3 separate regions of the Homo sapiens genome follow, and regions 2 and 3 are each linked to region 1. Evidence: fine-mapped expression QTL. A gene starts in region 1. Each other region holds a variant in brackets. All regions are shown on one strand. Distances are between the middles of the regions. Region 1 holds the start of TNFRSF8 (TNF receptor superfamily member 8). Region 2 overlaps TNFRSF8 (TNF receptor superfamily member 8). Region 3 has its middle 16 kb from the start of MIR7846.

Evidence for each region.
Region 2: its variant is fine-mapped to the expression of TNFRSF8 in whole blood (TOPMed, PIP above 0.99).
Region 3: its variant is fine-mapped to the expression of TNFRSF8 in whole blood (TOPMed, PIP 0.96).

What each region holds. Positions count from the first base shown.
Region 1 is chr1:12,056,966-12,066,939 of GRCh38, forward strand. TNFRSF8 (TNF receptor superfamily member 8) reads left to right here and starts at 6,338. Exons shown (of 15, transcript NM_001243.5): 1 at 6,338-6,696. The coding sequence starts at 6,634. RefSeq lists silencers at 5,781-6,013, 6,601-6,730.
Region 2 is chr1:12,101,157-12,111,130 of GRCh38, forward strand. TNFRSF8 (TNF receptor superfamily member 8) reads left to right here. Exons shown (of 15, transcript NM_001243.5): 4 at 3,223-3,375; 5 at 8,410-8,500; 6 at 8,885-9,048. Among named protein-coding and RNA genes, the nearest start is that of TNFRSF8, 43 kb to the left of the region's middle. The variant C/T (reference allele first, on the strand shown) is at 4,184.
Region 3 is chr1:12,145,875-12,155,848 of GRCh38, forward strand. No RefSeq gene overlaps it. Among named protein-coding and RNA genes, the nearest start is that of MIR7846, 16 kb to the right of the region's middle. RefSeq lists enhancers at 615-694, 2,548-2,677. The variant A/G (reference allele first, on the strand shown) is at 4,755.

The DNA of each region.
Region 1 (9,974 bases):
GCTCCAACTGAGAGAGCATGGCCTTCCCATGGTGCTAGTCACATCAACCTGTTTAATCCTCACCAGCCCTTTGCAGTAGATCTTATCATTTTCCCATTATAGATGAAGAAATGGAGGCTCAGAGAGGGTGAGCAACTTGCCCGATTTACACAGCTAGTAAATGGCAGAGATAGCATTTGACCAGGGCTGTCTGGTTCTAGGACCTCTGGCAGCCAGAGGAACAGAGCTGTAAATGCTCTGCAGGAGCCGCCAGGCCCAGAGGAATCCAGGCCTCCCCTCTTCCCCACCGGGGCCTTGCAACAAAAGGACTTCTAAGCAGATCATTGACCCTAGCCCCCCCATTTTACAGATGAGGGCACTGAGGACCCCCAAGAGAAAGTCATGCAGCTAAATGCCAACCTGGGCCACACTGGGGCTCCTGACTTTCCATCTAGTCTTTCCACACCTATCAAGCTGGAGCCAAGACTGAGCCCAAATCTGGTGCCAGAGGTTGGGGGAAGTGTTCCCACAGAGACTGTGTGACCAGCAGGCTGGGCCATGGAGGTGTAGGAAGTGGTCACCCACCTGACATCACCTGAGGGGCCAGGAAAGGCCTCAGACCCCCAAGGTTCCCTCCTGTGGGCCTGCCCTGCATGAGTCACCCCTTGGCTGGAACAGTGGATGTCATGGTAGCATGTTTCTCAGAAAGGGGAACCCCCAGCCATGAGCATTTTAGCTGTGCTCTGGAATGGGAGGTCTGGGGCCATAGCAGGGGCCTGGATAGGCAGTGGGAGGGGGCAAAGGGAAGTAGAGCCCTTTCCATGTCTTTCTTGCATTTCCAAGAGCTTTCTATGTCCATATTTTATTCAAGGCCCATTACAACCTTCAGAGGGCAGCCCAGTCATGCTTCAACACACATCTGGCAGAAGGGGAAACTGATGCTCCCAGTGTTCCCCAGCCCCTGGTATTCATGCCCTTGTGCAGTCCGCTCCCACACTGGGGAGAGCCAGCCTGTATAACCAACAGAATACTGTGGAAATGACAAAATGTGACTTCTGAAGCTAGTTCATAAAAAGCATTGTGACTTCTGTCTTGCTCACTTGGGGTCACTTGCTCTGGAGGAAGCCAGCGCCATGTTGTGGGGACACTCAAGCAGCCCCATGGGACTGAAGCCTCCTACCCACAGCCGTGGGAGTGGCTAATCCTGGAAGCAGATGCTCCAGCCCCACTCAAGCCTTCAGATGACTGCCGCCCTGGCCCACATCTTGATGGCAATCCCTGAGCCAGCATCACCCTGTCAAGTCTCTCCCAAATTGCTGACTCACAGAAACAGCGCAATATAATGTTTATTGTTTTCAGCCACTAGGTTCTGAGGCACATAGCAATAGATAATAATACATTCAGAGAGGAGAAATGACTTCCCAAAGTCACATGGCCAGACCAGGACTTATACATCAGTGCTCTTTCTCCTGGGGAAAGCAAGGGTGAGAGAGGCCTGGGGAGGGAAAAGAAGGCAGCTGAGGCTTCAGAGTCAGACAGGGTTGGAGTAAATCCTAGCCCTGCCACCCTCATGCTGTGTGACCTCAGGCAAGTGACTTAACTACTCTGAGCCTCAGTTCATTTATAAAGTGGGGATAGCAATACTGACTTGAAATCTTGATGCCAGGATTAAATGTCTGACCAAGGGCCTGGTACACAGCAGGAGCTCAATGAATGACACTGTTAATGTTACTATGCAGAATCTTTAAGAGCATCCCCGAGGGCCTCACAGCCTTCCCTCCTGCCCATGGGAAGGGGCACAACAAACCTAGTTCTGGAGAGCCAGTGCCCCTTTGCTTAGTTTCCAACCAGGCTTGGTCTAGGGGTGTCATGCTTGTGGGTGTGCATTGCTGGGGTTCACCCAGGCAGCTGAGAACCCCTAATGTTGGTGCCTCAAAAGGGCAGGGAGATCTGGGGATGTGAGTTGGAGGGAGCCTGACATGGGTCCTGCCGATTAGGACTGGTGGAGGCCAAGGGTGACCCAGAGAAGCCTAATGGAGAGTCCTACTGCTACCAAGGCTCCCAAGAAAGTTGCTCAGAAAAGGTGCACCTGCGGCTGGGCGCGGTGGCTCTTGCCTGTAATCCCAGCACTTTGGGAGACCAAGGCATGCAGATCACTTGAGGTCAGGAGTTCAAGACCAGTCTGGCCAACATGGTGAAACCCTGTCTCTACTAAAAATACAAAAATCAGCTGAGTGCAGTGATGCTCGCCTGTAATCCCAGCTACTCGGGAGGCTAAGCATGAGAATCGCTTGAACCTGGGGAGGGGGAGGTTGTAGTGAGCCGAGATTGCACCACTGCTCTCCAGCCTGGGCAACAGAGTGAGACTCCATCTCAAAAAAAAAAAAAAAGAAAGAAAGAAAAGGTGCACCTGGACCTATTGAAGAAGAAAGGCCCCAGCCTCCCCTCTCTGATTTCCAGCCTCCTACCTGCCAGCTGCTGCCTGGGCCAGAAAGAACCCTTTATCTGCTAAGGGTATTTTGGGGCCATTTGGGACTCGGGTTCCCAGCTGTTGGAGGAAGTCCCTGAATTTCCTGAACCAAGTTGGGACCTTGTGTCTTGCTCAGCATCACTTTGGGGACACAGATTCCCAATTCCCCTTGGATGGCTTCCTACTGCATTCACCTTCCTCACCTTTCCTCCAAGAAGCCCACCGAGCTGAGACTGTGTGAGCAAGCGCTCCTCGCTCCCCAGTCTCCTGTAGCCCCTCGGGCTTGGCTTCCTTCCACAGCTTGCTCTGGAGGGCCCCACGACCCCACAACAAGGACTGCTGCTGTGCCTTGCACAGAGCCTAGGGACTTCCCCTTCTACTCTTCACAGCACTTTCATACCACCTGAAACCTGCCGAGGGCACCCGGGGGCTCTATCCACTGCCTGCTTTTAAGAGTCCCATGAATGGCTGTTTTCCTTGGTTGCTACCAGCCCATCTCCCCCTGGGATCCAGCTGGCTCCCTGGCCACAAAATGTGCCTTCCCTCCACTTAAGCCATGTGTCAGCTACTTTCCTGGGCGCCCTGGGGGAATTCTGGTTCTCAGGAGTACACAGTTTCCTGGGGCAGAGGGATGCATGAACCAGTCATTATGGTTATGACATGATGAGATCAGATCTAGAATTGCGGCACAAAAAATGACAGAAACCACTTTTTGACTGGGAAGAGGGCTGGGGGACAGGAGACACTGCCAGGAAAGCAACAAGGAGGAGGTGGCATTGGAACAGGTTAGGAAGATGATCAGGAGTCTGTGTGCGTCCCAGGTGGAGGCCAGCGTGGGCAAAGGCTGGCAGGGGTGAGAAGGCTGCACATTTGGCTGGAGTATAGGTCCAGGAGAAGTAAAAAGGCACAAGGGAGGAGTCAGCCCCTGCCAGGCTGTGAGCAGACTTGTGCACCCTTGCATTTGGGTGACTCTGACCCAGGGGAGCCACTGCAGGGGTTCCTTTCCTGCAGAATGGGCATAAAAGTAGGACCTTGTTCATGGGGTTTTCATGAGGATACAAGAAACCAATGCCTGAAAACTCTTAGCACAAAATAAGCACTCAAAGGTAGCTGTTATTGTTATCATTAAATGAATAATATAATTTTCTACGTGGTCCTCTGCCAAAACACACACCATACTTCCGCAAGGGTTCTCTACAGGGGAGTGTCTTGGTGAGATGTGTGTGCTAGAAAGGTCTCTTTGGAAATCCATGGAGGGAAGGATATGAGGGAGAGACAAGTTTCCACAACATCTATAGATTTATCCTTTTTAATGGATGTGCAATATTCCATTAAATGGATGTACCACAATTTCCGTAATCATTTCTTGTTGTGAATCTCAGAGTATTTCAAAAATTTATAAATAATATATAAGGAAATGTTACTGTATAGTTTTCTTTTTTCTTTTTCTAGTTTTCCAGTTAAATTATTTCCTTAGTTTTTCTTCACTGAGGTGAAATTACTGAGCCACTCACAAGTAGTACACATTTTTTTTTTTTTTTGGCTTTTGCTAAAAATTGCCATACTGCTTTCTGAAAAGGGTTGTAACATTTACCAGCAGAGTATGAATGAGTATTCTGGTCTCACCACAACTTTGGGGTTGGATTTACCAAAATTGTTTTTATAAAGCAAAAAAAAAAAAATGATGATTGTATAGATCTAAAAGGTTATCAAAGGTTGCTTGAATTTGCATTTCTTTAATTACTAAAAAGGTTAAACTTATAAAACTTGTAATTGATTTTTATTTGTATTTCTCCTTGTGCAAGCTATTTTGATGCTGTTGTTCATTTATTTATTCAAAACACCAGCCCTTCTCTCTCTCTCTTTTTTAATTAAACAAAAAATAGAGATGAGGTCTTGCTACGTTACCCGGGCTGGTCTCAAACTGGGCTCAAGTGATCCTCCAACCTCGGCCTCCCAAAGTGTTGGGATTACAGATATGAGCCATGTCACCCAGCTGCCAGCTTTTCTACTTTTGTAGTAGAAAGCTCTGGACTGGGAAGCAGGTGTCTTGCGTTCCTCCTGTCCCTGTCTGGTTCTGTCATTATCACAGGCAGGTCACTTCCATAATTGCTTACCTCATTGTTTAACATAGTCCCAGCTCAAACAGCCTAAGATACTGGGCCTGGTACATCCAGAGGAGAGTCTGGAAGTGGGTCTCTTGGGAAGGGGCATGATGGAGCAGTTTTCCCAAGTGGAGTCCAGCAGCCCCAGGAGGGTTGAGCATGGAGTGGTCAGTTGTGGAGACCTTGCTGGGAAGTTCCTGGTGGGAGGTTATCACTCCTACCCTATAGGGCCTTCACCTGATGGAGGCCTGGTACCTCGCAGGACAGATCAAGGTAGACACAGAAGCCAGAGTATCCTTAGGCTATTCTGGGCTCAGGGAAAATAACTGGCCCACCCTTAATTAGAGCACCTAGGACTGCCTGCCTATTTCTGAGCCTTGGCTTTCACATCTGAAAACCAAACAAAATCAGTCAAAAGAACCCTTGACCTGTGGCCCACCCAGCAGATGCTCAACACAGACACACGGAATGTGGAATAAAAGGAGCAAAGAGAAAACCCAGGGGATGGGGAAGCACTGGAAGGGAAAATCATTCACCAGCAAATGAGAACATAGTACGAGGAGGCTTGAATCATTTCTGTTAGGAGAGAGTGCCAGCCGCCTCCTCCAGGAAGAAAACTCTAAAGGGTCAGGCCTCAGGGAAATAAAATGATCTATACCATCCATCAGTTCCTCCAACATTCAGTCCATCCATCTACCAATCCACCCACCCATTTACCCACTCACCTGCTGCTCATCCATCCATCCATCCATCCACCTATGCATCCATCCATCCATCCATCTATGCATCCATCCATCCACCCATCCACCCACCCATTTACCCACTCACCTGCTGCTCACCCATCCATCCATCCATCCATCCATCCATCCATCCATCCATCCACTTATGCATCCATCCATCCACTTATGCATCCATCCATCCATCCATCCATCCATCCATCCATCCATCCACCTATGCATCCATCCATCCATCCATCCATCCATCCATCCATCCATCCATCCATCCACTTATGCATCCATCCATCCATCCATCCATCCATCCATCCACCTATGCATCCATCCATCCATCCATCTATGCATCCATCCATCCACCCATCCACCCACCCATTTACCCACTCACCTGCTGCTCACCCATCCATCCATCCATCCATCCATCCACTTATGCATCCATCCATCCATCCATCCATCCATCCACTTATGCATCCATCCATCCATCCATCCATCCATCCATCCATCCATCCATCCACCTATGCATCCATCCATCCATCCATCCATCCATCCATCCATCCATCCATCCACTTATGCATCCATCCATCCATCCATCCATCCATCCATCCATCCATCCATCCACCTATGCATCCATCCATCCATCCATCCATCCACCAATTTATCATCCACTCACTGATTCATTTTACAGCAAATGCTTATGAATGGGGATGGGTGGGTGATGGTTGCTTTTTCTGCAGTCTCCCTAGGCCAGTTGTCCCTTCCAAAGAATCTCAAGGGCATGGGAGAAGGTCCTGGCTGATCGTGTCAGGGACAGGAAACTACTCACATTTCACCGTTTCTTGGGGCAGGAGTGGAGGTGGGGGCATTGGAACCCCCTTGGGGCCTCCTAATATCCTGTGAGTCCCCACCTCCAGGGCCAGAAGCTGCCTGCCTCCGCTCCCCGCAGCCCAGGTGCGGCGGGCAGCACACTCCCTAGAGCCAGGACCACTAGTTCCGTCAAATCCGGGGCGGGCCATTCAAACAGCTAAGGGAGGCGTCTCCTAGTGTGCCTTTTCCTGAGTCATCTCTGCACGTGTTTGCCCCCTTTTTTCTTCGCTGCTTGTAGCTAAGTGTTCCTGGAACCAATTTGATACGGGAGAACTAAGGCTGAAACCTCGGAGGAACAACCACTTTTGAAGTGACTTCGCGGCGTGCGTTGGGTGCGGACTAGGTGGCCGCGGCGGGAGTGTGCTGGAGCCTGAAGTCCACGCGCGCGGCTGAGAACCGCCGGGACCGCACGTGGGCGCCGCGCGCTTCCCCCGCTTCCCAGGTGGGCGCCGGCCGCCAGGCCACCTCACGTCCGGCCCCGGGGATGCGCGTCCTCCTCGCCGCGCTGGGACTGCTGTTCCTGGGGGCGCTACGAGCCTTCCCACAGGTAAGCGGGTGACGGGCGCCTGGGGAGGTGCCGGCGGTCCAGAGCCCGGACAGTGTGGGGTGCGTGGGACGCAAGGGAGGACACTCCTCACCCCGTTCCCTGCCCAGCTGGAGTGAGGGGGCGCGGGTGACAAGCAGGAACACCGGAATATGCTAGCACCCACAGGTGGGAGGCTGGCTGAAGGGCTAGTGGTGGGGGGCGCCTCCTTCTCACCCCGCGATGGCTGGGACTGATTCATTCATTCAGTGTGAATTGGACTGAGAGCACTGCCATACGCGGGAGGCGCTCTTTAGCCCGCCTACCTGCGGGCCCGTCGGGGTCCTGGGCAGATCAGGTGAGGCCGTGGGAGTAGTGGGCAGGCCAGATGGGGCCTCCCTTAGCCATGGGAGGTTGGTCGTCCGCGCTCTACCCTGTTGTGTGCGCGGTCCCGTTTGCCCCCTTCCTAAGCTGGCCACTGGCTGGAGGGTCAAGGAAAGGAGGGAGAGTTGGCTGTGGGTGAGAGTGGGGTGAGGGTGCAGGACCACCGGGATTAGCTTCCCCAATCCGCGTCCGGCAAAGCAACGCTGTGGATTGAATTCGCTGGAGCACGTGGTGGGCATTTGCCCCTGGAAGAAGGTCAGTGGTGGGGCTGAAGTCTATGGTGGGTTGCCTCAGAATTGAGTTTGGGGACTGCTTTAGGAAAACTGAGCACTTACCAGTGGCCAGCGCCAAATTAATCACTGTGGGGAGAATGCAAAGTAACCAGGCGTGTTTCACGGAGCCCAGGGGCTGCTGGAGAGAGAGGCCCTCAGCTGACCCAGGACCCCGGTGGACCCCTGCATAGAACCATAGTAGGTGCGAGTGGATGCCTGCTGAATGATACAGAGGGAAAGGAAGGAGCAGGCTGTTAGTCCAGCGGTGGGTCACGGTGGGGGAGAGGGAAGACCCAGTTCCCCTTTAATCCTACAGGAAGAGAGGACTCCATGCTATGGATCAATTCTAGTCATCTGAACCTTAGGCAGTGGGAGGAGAGTGGCAGAGTGGGCTTTAGGCAGGAGGGAGGAACTATGCAGCAAAGGAGGAACTATGCCCTCTTCCATTTCCAATGGGCAATGTGAGGTATTCCCCCTTTCCCCCCAAGAGGGCAGAGGGGACAAAGCCCTGGCTAGAGACACCCTGTCCCAGCTCTGCAAGCCCTCACCTGGGGGAAGGTAAGAGTTTGGAGTGCCAAGGTCTTGGGGAGATGAAGGGAAGGAAGAGATGTGAGAGGTGCTTGGGGGGCTTTGCTGGTTTGGTTTGGCAGCTGAAGCTCATGTGCTTCCTTTCTGTAGAGTGAAGCCCCCTCCACTTTTTTTAATGTTAGAGACAGGGTCTCACTCTGTTGTCCAGGCTGGAGTGCGATCATAACTCACTACAGCCTGAACTCTCATACCAAACCTTTTTTTTTTTTTTTTTTTTTTGAGACTGAGTCTCACTCTTGTTGCCCATGCTGGAGTGCAATGCTCGATCTCGGCTCACTGCAACCTCTGCCTCCCGGATTCAAGTGATTCTCCTGCCTCAGCCTCCCAGGTAGCTGGGATTACAGGCATGTGCCACCACACCCGGCTAATTTTTGTATTTTTAGTAAAGATGAGGTTTCACCATGTTGGTCAGTCTGGTCTCGAACTCCTGACCTCAAGTGATCCTTCCGTCTCGGCCTCCCAAAGTGCTAGGGTTACAGGCATGAGCCACCACACCCAGCCTCCCATACCCTTTTTAAAATAAAAATACTATATATTTAATTGCACAAGGAATATATAAATATATTCTCAAAGCAAAACTGTAAACGCTACAGATAAAGCCAAGTCTTTTGACACCGCCTCATCCTGATCCCTTCAAAGATATAACCACCATAATTGATTTGGTGTGTTTCCTTTGCAGACCTTTATAAATGCATGTCCATATTTATATTGTTTTAATAGACATATATATAGTTTTCCATATACTATACCCTACAGTACATATGGTTCTTCATTTGGCTTTATAATGTCTATGAGGCATCTTGGTGAGCTTTCCATGCTGAAACTTACAGATCCTCTGCCTATCTTTTAAAATGCTATGTGATCTTTTGCCAAATGGGATGTTTCATAGTTTATTTATGTCCTGGATGGATGGGTGCTAAGGTTGCCACCATTGTTCTTTCTTTCTTTCTTTGTTCTCTACTACAGTGCACAGCCCTATATGGATGCTTTTGGAAATAAATGTCTGTGATTCTTTCCTAGACAAGAGACTGAGAAGAGAATACTGAGGTTGCAGGGCGAAAATGCATTCAAATTAAAAGACACCACCGAACTGCCTTCCAGGGTGGCTGGACAATTTACCCTCCCGCTAGCAGTGCAAGAGAGTAGTAACTTTCCCACATCCTAACCGACATTTGATCTTATCAGCATTTTAATTTTTCTCAATGTGATTAGTGAAAAGGGTTATATCCTTGTTGCCTTAATTTGCATTTCTCGCCTACCGGGGAAGCTGAGCATCTCTCTGGGCTCAGGCACTAGGTCATTTCTTGGCAGGAGTCAGGGAGTCCTTGGGGAAGGGACTACCTGCCCAACACAGTACTCCTTTTTGCCCCTCAAGCCTTCTCCCACTTCTGTTTTTTCCAGTAAAGGTTCGGGAAGCTCGTTATTTTAAAAAAAAAATCCCAAATTAGGGCTTGAATTTCCTTGAGTTTAAAATTTTTTTTTTTTTTTTTGAGATGAAGTCTCCCTCAGCTGCCCAGGCTGGAGTGCAGTGGCACGATCTTGGCTCACTGCAACCACCCTCTCCCAGGTTCAAGTGATTCTACCGTCTCAGCCTCCCTAGTAGCTTGGATTACAGGCACTTGCCATCATGCCTGGCTAATTTTTGTATTTTAGTAGAGATGGGGTTTCATAATGTTGGCCAGGCTGGTCTTGAACTCCTGACCTCAGGAGATCCATCCACCTCGGCATCCCAAAGTGCTGGGATTACAGGCGTGAGCCACCGCCCCCGGCCTAAATTTTTTTTTATTTTTTGGGACAGTCTCACTTTGTCTCCCAGGCTGGAGTGCAGTGGCGCAATCTCAGCTCACTGCAACCTCTGCCTCCTGGGTTCAAGTGATTCTCCTGCCTCAGCCTCCTGAATAGCTGGGATTATAGGTGCCTGCCACCTCACCCAGCTAATTTTTGTATTTTTAGTAGAGATGGGGTTTCGTCATGTTGGTCAGGCTGGTCTCGAGCTCCTGGCCTCAAGTGATCCTCCCACCTCGGCATCCCAAAGTGCTGGGATTACAGGCGTGAGCC
Region 2 (9,974 bases), 44 kb after region 1:
GCTGATGCCTGCAGTCTCAGCACTTAGGGAGGCCAGGCTGGGAGAATCACTTGAGGCCAGGAGTTTGAGACCAGCCTGGGCAACACAGTGAGATCCCCATCTCTACACAAGATAAAATACATTAGCTGGGTGTGGTGGCATGCGCCTGTAGTCCCAGCTACTCAGGAGGCTGAGGTGGGAGGATGGCTTGAGCCCAGGAAGTTGAGGTTACAGTGAGCTGTGATCATGCCACTGCACTCCAGCCTGGGCAACAGAGCAAGACCCTGTTTCAAAAAAAAAAAATGATAAAAAGTATAGTACAGTAAGTACGTAAACCAGCAATATAGCTTTCTATGATCATTATCAAGTATTACATACTATCCATAATTGCATGTGCTATGCAGCACTTTTATACAACTGGCAGGGCAGTAGGTTTGTTTATACCAACATCTCCACAAACATGGGAGTAACGCACGTGCTACGACATTGCCGTGGCTATGACATCACTAGGCAATAGGAATTTTTCAGCTCCATTATAATCTCTTTTATTGTTTTTTTTGTTTGAGATGGAGTCCTGCTCTGTTGCCCAGGCTGGAGTGCAATGGCGCAATCTCGGCTCACTGCAACCTGGGTTCAAGCGATTCTCCTGTCTTAGCCTCTCAAGTAGCTGGGATTACAGGCATGCGCCACCATGCCTGGCTAATTTTTGTATTTTTTTTAGGAGAGGCGGGATTTCACCATGTTGGCCAGGCTGGTTTTGAACTCCTGACCTCAGGTTATCCGCCCTCCTCGGCCTCCCAAAGTGCTGGGATTACAGGCGTGAGCCACCGCGCCCGGCTTCCATTATGATCTTGTGGGACCATCATCATGTACGCCATCCATTGTTGACTGAAATGTTGCTCTGTGGTGCGTGAAGGTATCATTTCTAATGTTTTGTTCTGTTTTCCCTCTTTTCTGCCTCCTTGAGTGTTAGTGCTCTTTGCATTCAGAGCTCCTCTTCCTTGGCGCTGGTTTTCCTCTGATGTTTGGCGACTTCTAGTTCTGTGCACATCATATCTCATGATGCCGGTGGTCTGCGAATGGGGCTTCTGAAACCCACCTCTGAGGGCAATGGGGCTCAGGTGGGGCTGCAACAGTCTCTTTGCGGGAAGACGCGTGGCCTCTGGCTCTGTGGCATGAGTGATGAGGAGCTATCCAGAGCCTTTCCCCCTTCTTCAGAGAGTCCCCCTTGGCTGCATTCTGGGCTGTGGTCTCCTTCACTCTGATCTTATCTGTCCTCTGCCTTCCGTATTTCGGGGAGTTGTCTTCGTTTCTGATCTGCCAAGCTTGCCCCTTCTTGGTCTCCAGGCCTGTTACACATTAATTATTAGTTTTACCAGTGCTATTTTTGTTTTGTTTTGTTTTGTTTGAGACGGAGTCTCGCTCTTTTGCCCAGGCTGGAGTGAAGTGGGGCCATCTCAACTCACTGCAACCTCCACTTCTCGGGTTCAAGTGATTTTCCTGTCTCAGCCTCCCCAGTAGCTTGGATTACAGGTGTGCACCACCACACCTGGCTAATTTTTGTATTTTTAGTAGAGACAGGGTTTCACTATGTTGGCCGGGCTGGTCTCAAACTCCTGACCTCAGGTGATCTGCCCACCTCGGCCTCCCAAAGTGCTGGGATTACAAGTGTGAACCACCACTCCCCGCCTAGCTGTACTTTTTATGTCTGTTAACCAACCTGTGATTTCCTGCTTTTCCTGCCAGCAGTTGTTATTATCTGTCTTTTTGATTCGAGTCATTCTAGTGGTTGTGAAGTGGTATCTCACTGTGATTTTGACTTGCATTTCCCTAATGGCTAACGGTGTGGGACATTTTTCATGTGTTTATTGGCCAGCTGTGTATCTTCTTTAGAGAAATGTCTATTCCAGTCCTTTGTCCATTAAAAAAATTAATAAACTATTTCTGGCTGGGTGCAGTGGCTCACGCCTGTAATCTCAGCACTTTGGGAGGCCGAGGCGGGTGGATCACCTGAGGTCAGGAGTTTGAGACCATCCTGGCCAACGTGGTGAAACCCCGTCTCTATAAAAATACAAAAAATTAGTTGGGCGTGGTGGTGTGTGCCTGTAATCCCAGCTACTCAGGAGGCTGAGGCAGGAGAATCACTTGAACCCAGGTTGCAGTGAGCCGAGATTGCGCCATTGCACTCCAACCTGGGTGACAGAGTGAGACTCTGTCTTAAAAAAAAAAAAATTAATAAACTATTTCTTAGAGCAGTTTTAGGTTTACAGGAAAATTGAACAGAAAATACAGAGTTCCTATATACCCTCAACCCCCTTCCCAATCTCCCACAGTTTCCCCTATTTTTTGTTTGAAACAGGGTATCACTCTTTTGCCCAGGCTGGAGTGCAGTGGTGCAATCACAGCTCACTACAGCCTCAACCTCCTGGGCTCAAGCGATCCTCCCGCCTCAGCCTCCCAAGTAGCTGGGACTACAGGCATGTGCTACCATGCCTGGCTAATTTTTGTATTTTTTTTTTGTAGAGACGGGATTTCACCATGTTGCCCATGTTTTATAGAGATGGGATTTCACTATGTCGCCATATGAGGGCAAATGATCCTCCTGCCTCGGCCTCCCAAAGTGCTGGGATTAAAGGCGTGAGCCACTGCACCCAGCCTCCCCTGTCACGAACACCTTGCATTAGTGTGGCACAATTGTTAGCATTGATGACCTGATAATGATGCATTATTATTACTAACTGAAGTCCATAGTTTACAGCAGGGTTCACTCTTTGTGTTGCCCATTCTAGGGCTTTAGACAAACGGATGATGACCACGTGCCCACCATCACCGTGGCATCCAGAATATTTTCACTGCCCTAAATGTGTCCTGAGCTCGTTGGTTCACCTCTCCCTCCCCCTGAACCTCTGGCAGCTACTGATCTTTTTACTGTCTCGATAGTTTCATCTTTTCCAGAAATGTCATGTAGTTGGAATGACAGTGTGTGGCCTTTTCAGACTGGTGTCTTTCATTTAGCAATATGTATCTAAGTTTCCTCCATGTCTTTTTTTTATTTTTTTGCATTTTAAAAAATTGGTACATTAATTTAATTTTTAATCCAATTTTAGTGGTCACCAGGGGGTTGAGCTGGGAGGCGGAGGCTGCGTTGCGGACTGCACCTGCCCTCTCCCCCTCATCTCAAGAGCTATCTGGAGAGACGCCTTCCTTCTGTTCCCCTCTGTGACCCCTGTCTGTGTCCCTTAGACGACCTCGTGGAGAAGACGCCGTGTGCATGGAACTCCTCCCGTGTCTGCGAATGTCGACCCGGCATGTTCTGTTCCACGTCTGCCGTCAACTCCTGTGCCCGCTGCTTCTTCCATTCTGTCTGTCCGGCAGGGATGATTGTCAAGTTCCCAGGTCAGTGTCCCCACCCTTAACTCAGGACAGAGATCTATGCTGTTGCTGCTGCACCTTCCGCCCACCCCAGTGCACTGTTGACTTCCGACCTCCCGCTTCCCGGAGACTGTTGGACAGATCATGTCTCCTTTGGCGATGGGCCAGGGATGTACCCAGCACCCAGCCCTTCTGCTGCCCTCCCCCACCTTGTGTTCCAGGTGCAGAGAGACCCTGCTGTCCCCTGGCATAGACCTGGCTGGAGGAGGTCTTGCTTTGGTTTGAGGCTCAAGGCAGAAGTTATCTGATGCCCCATAAACAAGAAGGGAACCTCAAGTCTCTGTCCTGGGAGTTTCCTAGAAGATTGGGGTTGGCTTCCCCCTTTCAGGTTCAGGGCATTGGGAGTTAGAGGTGCTGAGAGATCTGGCCCCAGGCTCAAGACTTGAGAAACTTGGGTTTCTTTTCCAACTTATCGTGTGACCTCAGACAAGTTTCTTACCTCTCTGACTTCTACTTCTCTGATAGTACAAGGTGTCAGGGCTGCTTTTAACCAGAGAAGGGGTATGGGCCACAGAACCTGTCTGGGTGGAGTTGGGACCATCTTCCAGAAGGGAGGCATGAGGAGTGGGTGGGCTTTGGAGCACAGCACAGAGTGGCTGCCGCAGTTGCAGACTGTATGGAGCCGGGGAGATGGGCTCAGAGGCAGCCCTGTGTCCACTGTCCACTGAGGAGAAAAGTGCCACAAAGTGCCTGTGGTCCCTCCCCCAACCAGGTCCTTCTCTGGAGTCCCATGCCCTGTTGTGCAAACCTGGGGATTGGCAGTCACCCCCAT[C/T]GCTACCACTGCCTGCCCCTTTTATCCTTCCCTCGTTCCCTCATCCTTCACAGCCAGCCCATCCTCGAGTCCTGTAGATTTGGCCTCCAATTATCTTCCCCACCTTCTCACCCCGAATACCTTCTCTTATACAGCCCCCATGGCAGACAGCCAGAATGACCCTTGCAAGACCAAATCTGAATCTGATCCTCTCTCTCTCTCTCTCTCTCTCACTCACTCACTCTCTCTCTGTCTCACACACACACACACACACACACACGGATATATACCTGAAATGCTTCAGTATCTTCCTGTTACTCTAAAGATAAGGACACAAGGCCAGGTGTGGTGGCTTACGCCTGTAATCCCAGCACTTTGGGAGGCCAAGGCAGGCAGATCACTTGAGGTCAGGAGTTCAAGACCAGCCTGGCCAACATGGTGAAACCTCATCTCTACTAAAAATACAAAAATTAGCCAGCCCTGGCAGCAGGTGCCCTGTAATTCCATTTACTCAGGAGGCTGAGGCAGGAGAACCACTTGAACCTGGGAGGCGGTGGTTGCAGTGAGCTGAGATTGAGCCATTGCACTCCAGCCTGGGTGACAAGAGCAAGACTCCGTCTCAAAAAAAAAAAAAAAAAAAGAAAACTCCAGGGACTCACCACGGTGTCCTTCAGGTCCCAAGGCCCCCAGTTGACCTGCCTTCTTCTCTTCATGTTTCAGAGCCTTCTTACATTTATTTTGTACATAATGTCCAGGGCTTTTAGCGGTTCTTGGCGGGAGGATGAGGGGAAAACGTGTCTAAGCCATCTTCCCAGAATCAGAGTCTCAGGATGTGATCCCAACACAGCCCCCTCCTTTCTCCCAGCTTCAGCTCTCAGCACCAAGCCCTCACTCTCTGGGCTCCACCTGCGCTGCCCTTCTTCCAGGTTGGAGGACGTGTGTGCTTCTCTGTCCCACCCGCCCTCTGCACGTGCTGTTCTCTCTGTCGGAGACACCCTTCCCTCCCCATTCACTTAGTCAAATCCTACTCAGCCCTGAGCTCTCCACCCCACTTCCTCAAGAGGCCTTCCCTGGCCTCTCACTAGGGAAGCTGGTAGCACTGTGTCCTTTGCAAATGTGGATACATACCTCTCTCTGTCTCTTGGCTTGATCAATGTCTGTCTCCCTCCCTGGCTGGAAGCTTCCTGAGGGCAAAGACCATGCCCCTGGTGTCCATCAACATCTCCCCACTGCCTGATCAAATGCTAGGCATGGCACCTGCTCCCCATAGAGATTCATTGAATTAAGATATGGGGACACCTGACAGGGAGCTCCGAGCTGGTGGGGGGGTGGAGTTCAAATCTGGTCAAATTCCAGGGTCGGGGGAGAGCGCTCTGCTAAGGAATGATGGAGGCCTCCACCCATAAGCAGGGGAGAGTGCTGGAGTGGACTGGGCAGCAGATACCTAGGATTTTGCAAAGATTTGCAACTGTGGGGCATGTTCCCACCCGCCTCTGGACCTCGGTCTCCCCATCTCTCAAATGAGGAGGTATAACTGAAGGCCTTGGGGGCCTCTCCAAAAAGGCCAAACTTCCCAAAAGTTTCCAGCTCAGAAACTTCTGCATCTTTGTGAAAAACATCTTGAGTTCAGTTGTTCCAGCCAAGGCTTCCTGCTGGAGGGACTGTCTGGGCAGTGTTCCTGAGACTGCCACACAGCGGCGCCAGAGGCCTCCCTTTGCTGCCCCTGGACCCCAGCTGCCCAATGCAGTGCCCCTGGCCCGTGGCACGTGGCCACGCACTTAAAATGCAGCTAGGGGCCGGGTGCGGTGGCTCACACCTGTAATTCCAGCATTTTGGGAGGCTGAGGCAGGCGGATCACTTGAAGTCAGGAGTTTGAGACCAGCCTGGCCAATGTGGTGAAACCTCGTCTCTACTAAAAATACAAAAGTTGGCCAGGTGTGGTGGCGGGTGCTTGAAATCTCAACTACTTGGGAGGCTGAGGCATGAGAATTGCTTGAATCCGGGAGGTGGAGGTTGTAGTGAGCTGAGATTGTGCCACTGCACTCCAACCTGGGCGACAGAGTTAGACTCTGTTTCAAAAAAAAAATCCGATAAAAAATAAAAAAAATGCAGATACGTCTGCATTGAGAAGTGCTGTGTGTACAATATGCACTGGATTTCGAAAACTTAGTATAAACAAGAATATAATTAATTATTTTTTATATTGATTGCCTGCAAACATGGTAATATTTTAGATATACTGGGTTAAATAATGAAAATTAATTGCACTGATTTCTTTTTACCTTTTAAAGTGTGGCTCCCAGAATATTTGAGCTGGCCTGTGTGACTCGCATATCTCTGTTGGACAGCACTGTTTTAGAAGTGTTCTAATCTCAGCTGCCAAACCCTGGTTAATCTCTGGGGTCCCCTGTGGACTCACCCATGGGGCAGCTCTCCGGGGTTGTTGTTTTTTTTCCAGCTGTAAAATAGAAAGCAGTTTCTGCCTCCAGTCAGCCAAGCCCCACGCTAAGAGCCTTCACTGGCTGTCTCTCCTGAAATTCTCACGTCTCCATAAGACAGACAGTATTAGCCCCATTTTCCAGGTGTGGAAATCGAGGTCCGGAGATGGGAGGTAAATTGCCCGCGGAGACAGAGCAGGAAATGTCTAAGCTTAGGTGTCATCACTCCACCATGCCACAGAACACGAGAGGTCAGCATTGCTCGCGCTCACCTCCACGGAAAGCTTCAGAGCGAAGTCCCACACATACAGGCCACCATTTTTTTATTTTTTTTTTTTTTGTGATGGAGCCTCGATCTGTCACCCAGACTAGAGTGCAATGGTGTGATCTCAGCTCACTGCAACCTCTGCCTCCCGGATTCAAGTGATTCTCCTGCCTCAGCCTCCTGAGTAGCTGGGATTACAGGTACCTGCCACCATGCCCGGCTAATTTTTTGTAATTTTAGTAGAGATGGGGTTTCACTATGTTGTCCAGGCTGGTCTCGAACTCCTGACCTCATGATCCGCCCACCTCGGCCTCCCAAAGTGTTGGGATTACAGGTGTGAGCCACCGTGCCTGGCGACATACGGGTCACCTTCTAAGTGTTGGGATGGGAGTCCAGATGGGTGTAAGGACATAGCATTTACCATATGTCATGCAATGTGATGGGCACCTCACGTGCACTCTTCTGTTTATCCTGACGACAGCCTGGTGAAGAGTGTATGATTATAGTCATTTGACTGGGCTGGGCACGGCAGCTTATGCCTGAAATCCCAGCACTTTGGGAGGCTGAGGAGGGTGGATCACCTGAGGTCAGGAGTTCGAGACCAGCCTGGCCAACATGGCGAAACCCTGTCTCTACTAAAAATTAGCCGGGCGTGGTTGCAGGCACCTGTAATCCCAGCTACTCAGGAGGCTGAGGCAGGAGAATTGCTTGAACCTGGGAGGCAGAGGTTGCAGTGAGCTGAGATTGCATCACTGCACTCCAGCCTGGGCGACAGAGTAAGACTCTGTCTCAAATAAATAAATAAACAAGTAAATAAAATGGACTTTCCTGGCACAGTTAGGACATAGCAGGCAAACTGAGGGGCACTGGCTAGACGATGTGTGTGTTTTCTTCTCCACTCTGCTTCTGTCCAGCATTCTTCAGGACTCCTTGGATTGCATGTAGCAAAATCCCCAATTTTTTAGCACATGTAGCTTAAAAGTCTGGGGATAGCTCTGAGAAGCTTCAGGCATGGCTGGATCCAGGGCTCCATCTTGCCCCATCTCTCACCTCTATTTCCCTCTCTGTTGGTTCATCGGCAAGATACTTACAAGCAGCTCTGCCCAGCGCCAGTGGGAAGACAGCTTCCCTTTCTTACATTTTTAATATCCAAAACCAAAACCTTTAAATCCCAAACCAGAATCTTTAAATTCTACCTCACAGGCTTGGGTCACATGTCCGTCCCTGAACTGGCTCATCGTGGCCAGAGGAATGCAACGGATTGATTGGTCCAGCCTGGTCTCATGGCCACTCGGGAAAGGGGGTTCAGTCGGTCCCAACCCCTAACCACAGATGCTGAGATCAGAGGGAGAGTAATTCCCCAGGGAAAGATAGGCTGCTTTACTCTGAAGGGGAACGGGTGCCAGGCGGGTGCCACCTCCAGATGACTGCTGTGTTTTCCAAGGGCCCCATCTCCGACTCTGGCCTGTGGTAGTGAAGGGTGTATTCCGGGAGACTTTGGGTCCCCAACACTGATTCTGAAGGCACTGCTGTCCCCCCTGCAGGCACGGCGCAGAAGAACACGGTCTGTGAGCCGGCTTCCCCAGGGGTCAGCCCTGCCTGTGCCAGCCCAGAGAACTGCAAGGAACCCTCCAGGTGACTCCCTGGCTTTGCCTCCTCCTCTTCCCCCAAGCTGGCTTTCAGATGAGGCTGCCCCACCCCACAGGACGCCCATGGTACAACTGGGCTGGGGGTGTAAGCGGGATTCAGCCCATGGTGTCAGCACTTTGGGGTGCCTCTCTGCCAAGCCCCTCAGATCATTTGAGGCCCTAGGGTGTGCCCAGCCCTGCCCTGAGCACATGGGAGACCCACAGGGCTTAGAAAACACAGGCCTTGCTCCCAGGAGCTTACAGTGGGCCCGCCAGAGGCAGTGGGCCAAGGGCCTGGGACCCCATCTCTGTGGAAACTGTTACTCGTGAGCACAGGCCTCCCTTGCCCCATTGGCAGAATTATCAGTCCCATCTCTGGCTTCTTCCCCAGTGGCACCATCCCCCAGGCCAAGCCCACCCCGGTGTCCCCAGCAACCTCCAGTGCCAGCACCATGCCTGTAAGAGGGGGCACCCGCCTCGCCCAGGAAGCTGCTTCTAAACTGACGAGGGCTCCCGACTCTCCCTCCTCTGTGGGAAGGCCTAGTTCAGATCCAGGTAATTTCCCCATGAAGCTGTGGGTCGTCTCCCTGGGGTGCTCGATTGGTGGATGGCCCATGAGTGGGGGTGTTTGGAGCAGGCGGGCAGTGATCTGTGGTCTTTTCCTGGTGGGGAGAGAAGACGGTGGTAAGGTATGATCTAGGGCTGAAAGCATTGAGGGGCAGAGGTAGACACCAGAGGGCTCATTCATTTGCCAGCAGTGCAGAGGGCCTGCCTTGTGCCGGACACCCGTGCCCCATCTCTCCCTCTATTTCCCTCTACGTTGGTTTGTCAGAGGGAAATGGGTCCCACTCTGCTGTTGTGACACTTGCGACTCAGCTGGCCAGCCTCTGCACGTGTCCATCTGATGCCCTCCTGGTCTCCATGGCGAAGGGTCGACCCTCAGTCATTTTTCTTTTTCTTTTTTTTGAGACGGAGTTTCGCTCATGTTGCCCAGGCTGGAGTGCAGTGGCGCAATCTCGGCTCACTGCCACCTCCACCTCCTGGGTTCAAGCGATTCTCCTGCCTCAGCCTCCTGAGTAGCTGGGATTACAGGTGCCCACCACCACGCCTGGCTAACTTTGTATTTTTAGTAGAGATGGGATTTCACCATGTTGGTCAGGCTGGTCTCGAACTCCCGACCTCAGGTGATCCGCCCACCTCGGCCTCCCAAAGTGCTGGGAGGATTACAGGCGTGAGCCACCGCGCCCAACCTAGTCCCATTTTATTACTGAATAGCCCTCCATGGCGTAGATATGCCGAGCTCTGTTTATCCAGTTTTTGAATATTTGGGTTGTTTCTGCCTTTTGACTATAATGAAGAAAGAAAAATACATCTTTGCGTGTATGTGCTTTCCTTTCTCTTGGGTTGGTTTTGTAAAAAAAATGGATTTGTGGGACTTCTAACAATTTTGGGTTGGAGCTCTTTTCCTATAGTTGTACCTT
Region 3 (9,974 bases), 89 kb after region 1:
CCAAGAGAAAAGCTTAGTCAAGGCGAGACTGTTCAGCTTCAAGGGGGGCTCCTTGGGCTGAAGGAGAAGCTGCTGAGGACACCTCAGGCCCCTGCACCCTCCACCAGGCCCCTCTGCCAGGCACCTCCTCCTAAGCCAGCACCCCATGCTGGCCAAACACCCTGGAACCCTTGCCCCTGGCTGACCCAGGGGAGCAGGTGTTCAATGTTGGGGCCATGGGTGTGAGCCAGGCACAGGGCAGAGAGGCTTGCCTGCCATTCTCTGCAGCTCAGACACAACAGCAGCGTGCGGATGGTGATGGCGCTGCGGGGTCACACACAGGCTCGAATCCCAGCTCTGCCATTTATCAGTTGCATGAGCTTGGCTATGTTCCATGATCTCTTTCAGACTCAGTTTTCTTGTCTGTGAAATGGGGGTGTCAGTCTCTACCTGACGGGGTTGTGGGGCTTCCCTGACATGCCACTCGGTGTGTGGCTTGTGCTGAGTGGCAGGTTCTGTCCTTATTCCAGCCTGGTGGCCGCTTGTCAAGAGCGAGCCCTTCCTATGTCTGCAGAATTCAGCCCATCAAGGTTAATCAGAGCTTTCAGGCCAGCCTGGGAACCTAGCCACCCTTGGGGCCAACTTGCTGTGGGAAGCCCCGCAGTGGGCAGGCCTCTTCTTGTTCTGTGGGCTACCCCAAGAACCCTTCAGATCACAGTCATAGGACTGGCTCATTATTCGACGTCTGTAACTCTGGGCATGTCGGCGAAGTGCTGCGGGTCCCTCCGGAGGGACATCTCACTCGTGGTTCTAGCACATTCCAGATTGCACCACATTACTGTTCGAGGGCTTTCCTCAATTAAAGGGTCTAGCTGCTGAGGACTAGTGGGGCACAGACTTGCTCTCGTGGGTCCTGTGTCTGGTGGACGGGACAGACGGTGGCGTCATCAAATCAGTACACAAGGTCATTCCAGAGTCAGATCACGCTGTGAACCACAAGGAGTCTGAGCCAGGTACTGTGGCAGAGTGGGAGGGGAGGGCCACCACTAGCTAGGTGGTCAGGGCAAGCCTCTTTGAGAAGGTGCCCTTTGAACTTGGCCTGAGTGATGTCACAAGCCAGCGAGGTCTGGAAGGCAGGGAGCTGAAGTGGGCACACTCCTGCCTCGAGTTTCAGGAAGAACACAGTGGTGGAAGAGGCACGGTGGGCGAGGGAAAAAAGGAGGTGAGGGGGGAAGGCCTGGGGAGGAGGGCCTGGTGGGCCATTGTGATTAGGCACCTAGATTTTATCATAAAAGTACTGGTCTATGTTTCTTTCTGTTTTCTTCCTAGTAGAACAATAAACATCCTGGTATTATTTCAGCAATCAGTGAGAAAGGCCAAACCAGGGGCGGCAAAGGTTGTTTTAACCTATTTTGGAGGGAAGTTGGGGAAACAGGCAGCAGCTGCTGGCAGCCAGGAAGCAGTTAGATGGGTTTTCTCAGAAAGAACTAAGACAGCATTCCTGGTGATGATTGTAGCTATGGGTAGGGTTAGGAGTCTGCCGGTCTAGCTTCCCCCTTTCTCTGGGTATCTTCCAGAGAGTAAAAACCAAACTGAAAAACCCTGGGAAGCCTGGAGGCCTTTGTTTGTGTTTTGGTGTGGTGATTGTTTTCCCGGTCATGAGGCAGAGGGATCATTTCAGTATCACAGGGTCAGCGGTGGCCTGTGCTTTTTACCCTTTAGCCCTCATGGAGGCAGTGGCCATTTCATGACGGTGGCATGGAGCTGTGGCTTCCGGCTCGACAAGCTCCCAGCTGCTTGGTCCCAAGCAAAGCCCTTATGTGCGTTCAATGTGGGTTTTCTGGTCTGCAAAATGGACCTAATGGGGCCAGATGCGGTGGCTCACGCCTGCAATCCCAGCACTTTGGGAGGCCGAGGTGAGTGGGTCACTTGAGGTCAGGAGTTCGAGACCAGCCCGGGCAACATGGCAAAACCCCGTCTCGACTAAAAATACAAAAAGTAGCCAGGCATGGTGGCATATGCCTGTGATCCCAGCTACTTGGGAGGCTAAGGTGGGAGAATTGCTTGAACCTGGGAGGCGGAGGTTGCAGTGAGCCGAGATCGTGCCACTGCACTCCAGCCTGGGTGACAGAACGAGACTCTGTCTTCAAAAAAAAAAAGAAAAGGAACTATAAGGCTGAGAGGGACTGTGGAAGTCCAGTCTGGGCACGTATGCCATGTTCAGTAAATGACAGCCATCAAGAGCAGCATCTTAAGAGCTGAGAGTTCGCCTAGGCCGCATTCTTTGTACATCTGGGCTTCCTAATAGAACCCTGGACAGTAGATAGGCTGGGTGGCAGCACTCCCTTTTACAAACTGAGGCTCGGGGAGTGGGGGGGAGCGAAGCAACTGGCCCACTGCCACACAGCTGGGAAGTCCCAGAGCTGGAGTTCAACCCCCAACTTTGTGATTCTAAATCCCTCCCCATGCCCAGGTGGCCTGGCTGCCTCTGTGGTCAGGGGTTGTGTTCATATCGTGGTCATCCCCTGGCACTATGCCTTCTAGATAAGTTTCCTTTCATCTTCAAGTCACCACAACTGAGAGATAGAATAGAGGCTGATTTTATTCCTCCCTTTATGGGAAGGCAGGGACAGTTGCAAGAGGCAGGGTAACCTGCCCAAGGTCAAACTCCAGGCTGGGTGTGGCTTTCTGACTGCTCTGACCGGACAGGAAGGACACAGAGCTAACCCAGCCAGGGCCTCCTTCCTTGACACAGCTTTCCTCAAAGGTGTGTGTGATTTTTTTTTTCTTTCTTTCTTTCTTTCTTTTTTTTTTTTTTTTTTGAGACAGGGTCTTCCTCTGTCACCCAGGCTGGAATGCAGTGGCACAAATACAGCTCACTGTAGCCTCAACTTCCTGGGCTCACGTGATCCTCCTGCTTCAGCCTCCCGAGTAGCTGGGATCACAGGCACGTGCCACCATGACTGGCTAATTTTTTTTTTTCTTTCTTTGTAGAGACAGGTCTCTCTATGTTGCCCAGGCTGGTCTTGAATTCCTGGGCTCAAGCAATCTTCCTACCTTGGCTTCCCAAAGTACTGGATTACAGGCGTGTGATTCTGAGGTCCAGGGAGACTCGGGGCTGGGTTGAGTCCAGGGAATCTCTGGGGGAGAACTGCCTGAGAGTGGAATTGCCCTTTCCATCCCCAGTAACACCTCATATCCTGCTCACTGCCCCACCTGAGGCTCCCTGAAGGAAGACGATCAAGAACAAGCCTCCCATTTTACAGATGGGAAAACTGAGCCCCATAGAGGCAAAGCAGTTTTCCCAGGGTCCCAGCTTGGTGCTGTGTGATGGAGATAGCTCTAACTGTAGCTGTCAGTTGGGGCTGGGGTAGGGGAAAGTCACTGTCTAGTCCAAGGGAGCAGTAAAGATGACATGCTGATTTTCATTCTTCCTTTAAAGAAAAAATTGATGTTAAAAGTAACTGTGGTGAGAGGGTTGGGTTCTTACTTACAAGGCAGCTTTGCAAGAGTAAACAGAGTAGACAAAAATATCCCATCAGCTGGGCTTCTGCAGCTTCACAAGCTACTGATCCGTGCAGTCAGAGGGCCCCAGGTTCAGAAGGGCCCTGGGCTTGGTTTAATGCTCTGCTGTCGCCATCTTGAAAGTGATGAATAATTTTTGGCAAGGGGCCCTGTGTTTTCATTTTTCATGGAGTTCTACAAATTATGTAGCTGATCTTGCATGGGGGCAGGGAAATCGTTAATTCAGAATTCACTTAATGCCAAAGCATTTTACCTCCATTGTCATGTGACCTCAGAGGGACCTTATAGATGAGCACACATGTCCCCATTTTTAAGAAGTGTTAAATGACCAGTAACTGATGTAACTGTTCCAGTCATCTCTTGCTACATAACAAATCACCTCAAAACTTAATAGCTTAAAACAATGGTCATTAATTTTGCTCACAAATCTGCAATGTGGCCTGGACTTAGCAGGGGAGGTGCATCTCGGCTCACATAGTACCAGCGGGGGTGATGAGATGAGCTGGAGAATCCACCTCCAAGAGGGCTGGCAAATTGGTACTGGCTGTCAGTTTCTCTCTGTGGAGCTTCTTGGGCTTCCTCACAGCATGGCTGCTGGGTTCCTGGAGCCAACAACTCCGGGGGCAGGAAGTAGAAACTGCCAGCGTCATAAAATTTGACCCCGGAAACTGGCACTGCATCCCCTTTGCTGCATTCCAGGTAGTCACAGAGCCCAGACTCAAGGGGAGGGGACACAGATCCCACCCCTCATTAGGAGGAGTGTCAAAGAATCTCGAGATCTTATGTGTCAGCAGGAGCACTTCACATACTGTCTCATTTTAGCCTCTCGGTAATTTTGCCATTATTGTCCTTGGAGTTGGCTCAAGGAAGCTACATAACCTGGTGGAATCCCAAGTTCCTCTGGCTGGAATTTGGATCCAAGCTGGTCTGTCTCCAGAGTGTGAGCTCTGGACTGAGCAGCTGACCTGTGCATTCAGGGACCCATACAGTCAGAATGTGGCAGGACTGGAAAGCAAGCTCACATCTGTCTGATTAGAGAACATCTGAGCTTGGTACCCATACAAACTAGGCCCTATCTAGTTTTTAGATAGGGAAATCAAGGCTCTGAGAGGTCTTGCCAGGCCTCTCCTGAGGAAGAGGGCAGGGTCTGGGACCTTCCAGGGCAGGATGGGGCCCCCAACTTGGGTTGCACAGAACCATGTCAGGAAGTCACATAGAGTTGTGGGTAGATTATGCAAGTACAGGCTGTC[A/G]GGAGGGATGTTGTTTTTCACTGCAATTACACTTCACTCAGGAAATACAGCTTCTGCACGTACTGAGGGAGGGTTCCTCACCCTGTGCAGAAGACCTCCTGGTGAATACCGGGGCACTCGCTGGGTGACCCTGGGTCCTCTGGGCCAAGTTCATGCATCGAAAGTTCCCTGAGAAGCTCTTTGTGCCCATCTGGGTTGGGCTTTGACAATAGAGTTGAAGAGGCTTTATTCCTGCCATGCATGGAGTCACAGGTTAGTAAGAAAGATGATAAGAGCTGTACTTGAGGCTTTCGTGTGCTCTCACTTAAACCTCACAGTGCACTAGGAAGTAGTTATTACATTACCCCTATGTTACAGATGAGGAAACCAACACGCAGAGTGGCTAAGCCAGTTCCCCAGGGTCACACAGCTGCTAAGTGGCGCAGCTAGGCTTTGAACCCAGGCCACCTGGCTGGAGTCTGCGTCCTCACACACTTGGCCATGCTGCTCCATTGTGGCTCAGGCCGAGGTCACCACTGTGCTGAGGCCCCAGCCCTGAGTCCCAGACCCTGTAGAACACTGTGCAGGCATCCATGGGGCTCAGTGAATGCACAGGGAATGGAATTTGCTCTTGGTTTTTATCCCACCTTTCCTTTCCAAAGCCCAGCTGTGGCCAGGCCTCTCCCTCACAGAACCTTCTATGACTCCCTAGTGCCTACATGCCAATGTCTGCCAATCCAGCTTTGCTGCTACCTCCACAGCTCCCATATCTAAACCTCTCCTGAGACCCGACTGTTTCCGCTCAGTCACCAAATACAGAGGGCATATCCTCATCATGAAATCTCTGCTCAGCGCTCCAACCCCTGAATTTCCAACCTCATCTTTCTCCTCCTCCTCCAAAAACCCTTCCAGGACACCCAGGCCCAGGACCTCCAAGCTCCCACAGCACTGACTGTGAAGGGGGACTGGAGGCCAAGTTCTAGAAGTCTTGCAAAAAATATCTCTGAAGAAATGCATTCATTCATTCATACAGCCACTCATTTAGTCACTCAAGCAACAGATCTGTATGTAACACCTACTATGTGTTGGGCACTGTGCTTGGCGCTGGGGAACACAGTGAAGTGGGGCAGTGGCGGGGATATACAGTACTGCTCTCAGGGAGTCACAGTCCAACTGGGAGACCAACCTAGAGTCTGGTCATGGCCTAGAGCATGATATTTGCTTTGATGGAGAGCAGCTTGGGGTTCATGACCCTAGTGGATGGCACCTAGCCCAGATGGAGGCAGGTCTCTGCTTTCCCCTCTGTAGAATGGGTTTAATAAGAGCACCTACCCCAAAGAGATGTTGTAAGGATTAATTTCATCCATTAATTTGTTCAATAAATATTTGTCAAGCTCAAACTCCGTGCTGGGGTGCTGGGGACACACAGCCCTGCCCTCTGCAGAGTGACAAGAAAGAGTATTTGGGATAACATTGGCTGGTGGTAATTGCTGTAAAGAAAAAAAGAAAGTGGTGTGTAGGCCCTCAGTGTGGTGAGGTGTGTAGCCAGGGCTTGGGGATGTAGCACCTGCTGTACAAAGGTCTGGGAGAATGTAGCGATTCAGGGTGTGCAGGGGGAAGTGAGTAGTTATGATCATGAGTCTGTGGTAGACATCGCCCCATCCTTGCATTTGCATCTCTAGGTTTCTACAGAAGAAAGGGGGCAAGGTGATGGAGAGAATTTCATGGGCGGAAATTGTTCTACAGGAGCTGGGGAGGTAGGCTGGCAGGGCTGAGCCGGCTACTTGGTGGGAGGTTGCAACAGCCTCAGGACGGGTGGAGGACTGCAGGGGAACTGGAGCCCAAGGGGGTTTCCTTCCAGGGTGAAGGGGAAAAGCAAGGCTGGGCACTTTGGGAACTTCTCAGGGAAACCCTCTCCTGTACCCTAGGGGACCTGGGCTCCATTCTGGAAAGGCAGAATACATGACCTCCATCACGTTTTGGGTCTGCACTCATTAAGCACTTACTAGATGCCAGGCACTGTAGAGTCTCCATCTCAGATCCTTACAGCACCCCTGTAAAGCAGAGGCTATTTATCCCCATTCTACAGATGAAGAAATGGAGGCTCAGGGAGGTAAAGTGATTTGTCCAAGGTCATGGTTGCGTACCAGTCAATGGCCTGAACAGAGACTTGAACCCAGGTCTAGGTGATGGCAAAGTTGATGCTATTTCTCCTTTTGATATACCCCAACTGTCTAAAGCAGCCCTTTTTTTTGCTAGGCTTCTTGGTGTTTGAAAATTTACCACTCATTCCTAGGAGCTAAAGGTTCCTGGGTTCCTCCTTGGGGCACATGTCTAGGAGCAGGATCTCGATCTGGTGGCAGAGGGGCAGCAGCTGCTCCGTCTGGCATACAGTAGGTGCTCAGTAAGTCTGCGGGGCAGGCAGGACAAGCCTGGGTTGGAAGGAGGTCCAGTTTCTTGGGAGTGAGAGCCTCAAGACCAACTTCACCTGAAGGACAAATGAGAGGTGGCCGAATCACTGCCAGCTACTTCAAGAAGCCCCTAGGACACTCCAGCCAAGGTGCCTTGGTCCCTTTTCTAAGTCGCCTGCCCACCCTGCCCAAGCTCCTGCGGGGAGTGTGCCCACTGTGACTCATCCACGCCCAGCCCTGCCCAGCTCTCACTGGGGCAGCAGTAGGCACACATACTCGTAAAAGTCTGAATAAGTGAAGACTGGGAAATTGCACCAGGGAAAAACTACTTATTTCTTCCTCTTTTGAATTGGGGAGGGGAAATGTTGCGGGGGAAATGAGGTCAGTGACGTGGTGAGCATTTCATGCTCCTTACTGATGAGCAGAGGGCCGGTATCACGTGCTGCCTTCCTAGGGAGGGCTGGGTAGTGCGTCAAGGAAATGGGCCCAGAGCTGTGTCTCGTCCAGTCTAGCAGGAAACTGCCCATCTCACTGTGTCACTCCCTTCTCTGTCCTTGCTCTAAGCCTCTACCCTGACTGCCCTTGCTCTGAGCTGAAATCTCACTAATGAGAAAAAAATGTGCTGGTTTATGCCTCTGTGGGCTGGCTGGGCTGGTAGGTCCCAGGGGGCAGCATGGCCTGGAGGAAACCGAGTGCACGGGGCAAGGATGATGTGCACGAGTGGTATGTGACTCCCAGGGCTCACAGCCTCATGCAGCCCCTCCCTCTGAGAGTATAGATGGGGAAACTGAGGCCTGAGAAGGCGAGAGATGTGCCTGAGGTCACACAGAGAATCCGTGGCCCTCAGCACAAGCACCCAGTTTGCTGGTACTTTAAAGATAAAAATAAACAAACTTTATAAATGGAAAAGATGAATAAAAGAAGAAACGAAGTATAAGGAATATGATAAATATAATAAAAATTACACACAATCTTGGCGAGGCACAGTGGCTCATGCTAGTAATCCTAACACTTTGGGAGGCCCAGATGGGCAGATCATTTAAGGTCAGGAGTTCAAGACCAGCCTGGCCAACATGGTGAAACCCCATCTCTACTAAAAATACAAAAATTAGTTGGGCATGGTGGTGCGCGCCTGTGGTCCCAGCTACTTGGGAGGCTGAGGCACGAGAATCACTTGAACCCAGCAGGCGGAGTTTGCAGCAAGCTGAGATCACGCCACTGCACTCCAGCCTGGGTGATGCAGCCAGACCAAGACCTTGTAACAACAACAACAAAAGTAAAACAATCAGTATTCCTTAAAAAAAAAAAAAATTGCACACAATCCCATCATCCATGAAACTCCTTTAAACATTTTGGTTTCTTCCCTCCTTTCTGAGTAGTTTTTTAAAATTATCTTCAATCATTTATTTATTTATTGTATTTTCTTTCTTTCTTTTTTTCTTTTTTGAGACGGAGTCTCGCTCTGTCATCCAGGCTGGAGTGCAGTGGCGTGATCTCGGCTCACTGCAAGCTCCGCCTCCCGGGTTCACGCCATTCTCCTGCCTCAGCCTGCTGAGTAGCTGGGACTACAGGCGCCCGCCACCATGCCCGGTTAATTTTTTTTTTTTTTTTTGTATATTTAGTAGAGATGGGGTTTCACCGTGTTAGCCAGGATGGTCTCGATCTCCTGCCCTCATGATCCACCCACCTCGGCCTCCCAAAGTGCTGGGATTACAGGCGTGAGCCACCTGCGCCCGGCCCTATTTATTGAATTTTCTAGAGATAGGGTCTTGATCTATTGCCCTAGAGCTGGGATCTAGATCCAGAGAACCAGCAATCTGAGAAAGCTGTTACCTCTCCAGCCTAAGATTTCATTTGAAAGCGTTTCATGGCTGGAAGTGTCTTTGAGAATCTTTGGTTTAGCTCATTCCAGTGCTTTTTCTCCAATGCCAGACCACCTGCAGCCAGGGCAAGAGAACCCCGTGGGCTGGAGAGATCCTGGAGGGCGTTAAGGAGGCAGTGGGGTTGCAGCTGAGCCATTAAAGACGACAATTCAGCATCAGGAATGGGAAGGGGTCCTGTTTCATTGTGGGGGATTGTTTGTATCTGAACTGCCTGGGGGTCTAGGTGGGAGACCTCTGGGGAGGGCTTTGGAGGAAGCATCTGGGGAAGGTGAGGTGAAGACAGGCTCAGGAAAGCTGTTTGCCTTAGGAGAGGCCAGAGGGAGATAGGACAGGTGAGGCCTTTGCAGCCTGGCTGGGCTGCCGGCAGACCTAGGGCTGGCTGGCTCAGGGTGAGCATAGACTGCCGGTGATGGAGCAATGGAGGATGGAGCTAGAGGCTCCTGATAATTCACCCTTTTCCAAGGGCCAGCCCTGGAGAAAGGCTTGTGTTCAGAGCGCATGAAGAACCCCAGGTTCTCCCTCTGTGAAGTGGAACCTCTTTGTGTTGAGTGACACAACTGCACTAGCAGTGCTTGCCTTGGGGCCTGGCAAATCCTTCATGAAACAGAGGTTTGAGATTATAATGAGATTTACTGTAGAGAGATGTGTCCTGTTTTCTGTGTCTGCACTCTGCTGGCTGTGTGGACTGGGGGGAGTTGCTTAAAGTGGTCTATAAAATAGAATGATCAGGCCCTGCCACTGGGCTTGCCTGGAGTTAGTGTGAATGTCAAATGGGGGCCTAGGTAGGGAGGTGACAGGTTAGGGAGGGACGCTGACACCTTTCATCCCTGCCACACCTGAACACCCAGAGAAAAGTGAAAACTATTAAAAGACACAAAGAAGCTCTGAACAGATGAAGCGTATGCCATGTTCGTGGATGGGATAAATTAATGTTGCACAGATGTCAG